2 separate regions of the Homo sapiens genome follow, and region 1 is linked to region 2. Evidence: fine-mapped expression QTL. A gene starts in region 2. The other region holds a variant in brackets. All regions are shown on one strand. Distances are between the middles of the regions.

Region 1 (2,808 bases), 140 kb before region 2:
TCTTGATCTGTTTTTCTTTTAATGTTTGAGTTCAATGGATAAGGGAAACGGTTGTATGCATTTTATTGCAGACATTCTCTGAAATAATTTTTAGCCACAAGCAAATAGCTCTGTTTCTGTGAGTCATCATTTCTTCTTATATAGTGCTGGATAAAGAATTCTATTTTGTAGATAGAGATTTATGACTTCCAGAAAGAAAGCTGCAAAAATGGAAGTTTCCAAAGAATTTAAGATTTGCTATAATAAATGCTATCATATATTGGTGTTTGAGATGCAAATGTACATATCTGTGTATCATATATTGGAGGTTGATTGAAAATCGGAGTTTGAGATGCAAGTATAGGTATCTGTGGTTGATGCAGTTTTCCTAAAACGTCATGATTTTCAATGGCAAGTAAGTTATTTATGGTCGTTTTTAAGGATAAGCTGTTAACGTGTTTTTTTTTTCTTTTTTTTTCAGCTTCCAATAAAAACAGGACAGCAGAACACACATACCAAAGTCAGTACTGAGCACAACAAGGAATGTCTAATCAATATTTCCAAATACAAGTTTTCTTTGGTTATAAGCGGCCTCACTACTATTTTAAAGAATGTTAACAATATGGTGAGTATTTGGGTTACTGTGTTTTGGGGAATTTGCTTTCTTTTCTTTTTGATTAAAAAGTTTAGAACAGCATATTTTGAAGTATGGAAAGTGATTTTCTGTGGACTTTGGATATAACCATTAATCTTATTTTGTTTACGAGCACAGATAACCTTTTAATTTTATTTTGTCAAATTTTTAATCAGCTGGGTTTTAGATTCAGTGAGCACAAGTAACTGTAACTTTCATTTTAATTTATTATTTCCCTTAGAAACATCTCCTATCTTTTGTGACCATGTCTCCTTTTCCAGTATGTTTCTTGAATTAGGATTTCATAGAGCTTTTGTGGCCTACACGAATTGACCACAGTAATCCATTACACATATTTTTCTTTAGCATCTTGTTTGAATTTACTTACGGTTGTCCCAGCCCTAAGTAGATGATAAAATATGATCTCATAGTCCTAAAATGTGGATTGATTTTTTTATGAAGATATGTGTTTTTTCTTCCTTCTGTAACCTGTGACAGATTCTGTAGTAGTTACCCTGTTGTTGAAACAGTTTTTCTCAAATACCAGTTTCATCAAATAATTCCACTGTTAAAAGCTCATAATTTCTTTCTTCTTCCCATTTTCTAAAATCGATTGACGTTTCCTAGACTTCAGAGTACTCCAGCTGTCCTCCCTCTGTACCTTTGAACATATAACATCTTTTGTCTTTCTCAAGTGATCCCTTCCTCTCTCTAAATTCCTATTTAACATCTCCATTCTAAGCTGTTTCAAACTAACATACTCAGTTCATGGCAACTGATCTGGATTTTTCTTGATTAACTCTGAACTCTCTGCTGGTGTTTAGCATTTATTTATTTATTTATGAATGAAT[AAATG/A]AATGAATGAATGAATGACAGGGTCTCATTCTGTCACCCAGGCTGGAGTGCAGTGGCGCAATCTCGGCTTACTGTAACCTCCCCCTTCCCAGTTCAAGTGATTTTGCTGCCTCAGGCTCCCCAGTAGCTGGAATTACAGGCATGTGCCACCATGCTCGGCTAATTTTTTTGTATTTTTAGTAGAGACGAGGTTTCACTATTTTGGCCAGGCTGGTCTCAAACTCCTGACATTAGGTGATCCGCCTGCCTCGGCCTCCCAAAGTGCTGAGATTACAGGTGTGAGCCACCGCGCCCAGCCTGCATTTATAATCCCAGTTTGTATTTGTTTGTATTGAGTTGTGAAACAACTTCTGGTTATAGATTGTGAAGATTGTTCCCCCTTCCTTTTTTTTGAGATGGTCCTTAGGTTTATTAGATAATATTCTAGTATGACATTGAAAAGACATGAAGTTACCTTTTTGCCTTATTCCCATATTTTAGATAATTTTTCTCTTGTTCTATTTTATTTTTAACTGGCATACAATAATTGTACATGTTTATGGGTACATATTGATGTTTCAATACATATAATACATAGTGATCCCACTAGGGTAATTAGCATATCCATCATCTCAATATTTATCATTTCTTTGTGTTGGGAATATTGAATATTCTCTTGTTATTTGAAACTATATAATGTTAACTGTAGGCCAGGCATGGTGGCTCACGCCTGTAATCCCAGCACTTTGGGAGGCCAAGACGGGCGGATCACGAGGTCAGGAGATCAAGACCATCCTGTCTAACATGGTGAAACCCCGTCTCTACTAAAAAAAAAAAAAAAAAAAACTTAGCGGGGTGTGGCGGCATGTGCCTGTAGTCCCAGCTACTCAGGAGGCTGAGACAGGAGAATGGCGTGAACCCGGGAGGCGGAGCTTGTAGTGAGCCAGGATGCGCCACTGCACTCCAGCCTGGGTGACAGAGTGAGACTCCGTCTCAAAAAAAAAAAGTTAACTATATAATGTTAACATAGTCATTCTACAGTAGTACAGAACACTAAGTCTTATTCTTCCTATAAAGCTATATTTCTGTATCCTTTAACAAATCTCTACCCACCCCGATTCTCCCTACCCGACCCTTCTTACCTCTAGTGTCCTCTCTTCTACTTTTTACTCTTTTTAGCTTCCACATATGAGTGAGAGCATGTGGTGTTTAACTTTTTGTTCGCATCATCCTTGGTGTGTTTCCTTTTAAGAAAGTTGCTTACACAATACCCTAAACTTACAAAACTAATAAACTGGAGGTGTAGAAAATCATTTACCTTCTTTATGGAAAAAATTAGTATTTTCCCCCCAAAAGCAGGA
Region 2 (2,808 bases):
ACATGGAGTCCCTATCACATGGGCTTTTGTTTCCATCATCCACTTCAGTAAGTAAGTAATGTTTTGTTTGTGGTCACATGACCACCTGTTATTGTAAAGGGTTATCTCTTGCAACTGAAAGAGTTGGTCAAAAGATTGGTCTGGAATGAATGTGAACTTATTGTTGTGCAGGTAAAGATGTGTGAGATTTGTCAGGTTTATTAATGTACCTGGAAGAATTTGTGTCAAAGAATTATTAGACAGGTCCACGATATGTAGTTTGGAGGGCATGTTGGTTGGAACTGTCCAAAGTTTGTTACTACTGAGGTTGAGAACCTCGAGACTTCTTAGTGTATTTTTAATGAGGACAACCTTTTCCAGCATGTTCTTAGAAACATCCAGATATTTAAGATTCCACTGATAAGCAGTATCAGATTTGTCAAGAAGTTTAATGTTGTTGTTAGCAGCAGACATGTTCCACAGAGACCGAGGTAAGTGAGCAGGCAGGCTTTCAAGCCTGTTGTTTGAAATGTCCAGGGTCCTCAGATTGGTATATTGGGTTAACTGGTTATGCAGATCAGTAAAGTGGTTATAAGACAGGTTTAAATGTATAATATTCTCTTGCAGTCCAGATGGTAATGTAGACAAGTTTCTGCCTGAACAGTCCACATGCCTGTGCCTCTCTGTGCATATACATTGGAGAGGACAAATGCATAAAATACCAGGTGTGAGAAACAGAAGGATGAACAGGCAGAGAGACATTTTCAATATCTGATATTCCATCAAAGCCTAGAAACAAACAGATACACCCTTCTTTTAATATGCAAATACAGTTTAGGCATCTGCATGGGTCAGTTAGCATTAGGCAAAATTTTCAATAAACCTCGTTGTTGTCGAGTCCTTTTATAATTGTTCCAGTGATTAAACTAACAAAGCTCCCCTTCATTTATAGTCCAAATGCTTAATCCTTCAATTGGGCTATGTGGTAGAGAGAGACTCTCTCCCTACTCTCTCCTGCATTTTCTCCTTTATTTTCTCTCTCCCTCCCCCCTTTTCTAACCATATTCTTTCTTATTTATCTTTCTAGAGCCTTAATATGATAAAATAGCATTCTTTGCAAATAAATAGTTGCAGTTGTAGGCTATTACTATTTTTGATGATATGCTTTCTTACTCAGATGAGAAAAAATGGCTGTCGTGTCTTTTTTTTTTAATCTCTGCAGTAATGTAATTCAATGTGTGTATATAGGGTAGATTTTATTTAGATATTAAAGCAGTTCTTCGAAATTTTATCTGTATGTTTTTAGGATAAATATATCTTTGTAAAAAGCACTTGAAAAATCCAGACCAACACAGTACCTATAAACCTCACATTTTATAAAGTGATTTTTTTCTGTATATTTCAGTGCCCATTTTAAAGGAAAACAATATGTATATTTACAGAGTGACTGAATGTATAAAAAATATCCCTCAACTGACACTGCAGCAAATTTCTGGTGCATGCACTTGCTATTGAATATATATTTAATCCTAACGTTGACTTTTTCTTAAAAGAAAAAGGAAAAAGATTCCAAAGTCAGCCTTTTACTGATTTAAATAACATCTTACCGTGGTGTCGTCTTCAACATCAGCATCTCATTTTCTCTGGGAAACTTAAAGGTCGTCTTGTTCTGTAGAGTCGGAACTGTTTCTGGCTGTGGGCTGTGCTTGCCTGCTCAGCTGCATTGTGTTGCTGTGAGCTGAAGCTCTGCAACCACCTGATCAGTACCACATAGGAGGACTGCAGAGCTGTCGCTGGTGCTGACTCAAATTTATGGCAAGAGGTGCACACGCAACAAAATGGACAATTTTTTAAAAAATTTGTGGCATCAAGCGTACCTATATATCTGATTTGCTATAGGATGGGATACCTTATGCATGAGAGTTGGCCCTTACTCCTTTCTATGTATTTGTCTGAGATTGGGTTCCATATTTTAACATTTGCCTCATTAAGAATCTGTGAATTTTTAAAATACCTCTACTCTTTATCCTTTTTACATGTTGAAAATAAATTTGACCTTCCTCATGGATAGTTTTCTATGATATTAGTCCCACTATTTTTTAACTCCTGCCTTTTTATATTCCTTTCTAAAATTGTATAATTTTCATGTCACTTTTTTAATATTATAAAAAATCTGTTTTATGACTTTTATGTCTTCCCCCAACATGGTGATTATTATGTTTAATCAGCTTTTCAAATTTATCAACCACTTAAGTGTTCCGTCTTCCCTTTTAGGATGTATAGAAGTACTGAAATACGATTATTTTTTCTTTATCTTTCTGATACAATGATCATTTGACCAAGGCTACACACAAGCCAGGATACATTTGGAAATTAGCATCTTATACTTCAGATTATCAGTTCCTATGTAAAATAAACATGTTTTATTTTATATATTTGGAGTTAAAGTTTTTTTTCTTTATGCAACCTTGGGTGGTAAGTGGATATGAGTATTGTTTTTTCCAAAGACATTTTTGGTGCTGTATGAATGACCATTTATTTGATTTTATGTTTTAAGAATAGCAGTATCAATTTAGGTGATTTCAGAGTGTTGCACATTTCATCTTTCTGGGAAAGTAGTTTATAGTTTTAAAATTACATGAAATGATATAAAAGGAAAATTTTTCATCATGAGTTTTATAAAGTGAGATCAGATTTATGATAAATTTTGCTCCACTCTTCAGTGGACTGCTTGTGTAAATCTGTTAAAACACAAATCTGATTTCCAGAATGGCAAGTTTAAAGAAAGCAAATAAAGTTACGGTATTTTCGTTACCAAGTGGCACCATT

The links. PIP is the estimated chance that this variant, and not a neighbour inherited with it, causes the effect. A credible set is the group of variants that fine-mapping cannot tell apart.
Region 1: its variant is the best candidate, but not a certain one, in a credible set for the expression of OMG in blood mononuclear cells (TOPMed, PIP 0.53).

Annotation. Positions count from the first base shown.
Region 1 is chr17:31,155,523-31,158,330 of GRCh38, forward strand. It overlaps NF1 (neurofibromin 1), which reads left to right. Exons shown (of 58, transcript NM_001042492.3): 2 at 461-604. Among named protein-coding and RNA genes, the nearest start is that of MIR4733HG, 61 kb to the left of the region's middle. The variant AAATG/A (reference allele first, on the strand shown) is at 1,465.
Region 2 is chr17:31,295,570-31,298,377 of GRCh38, forward strand. OMG (oligodendrocyte myelin glycoprotein) reads right to left here and starts at 1,670. Exons shown (of 2, transcript NM_002544.5): 1 at 1,587-1,670; 2 at 1-768. The coding sequence starts at 762. The region is part of intron 36 of NF1 (neurofibromin 1); the gene reads left to right.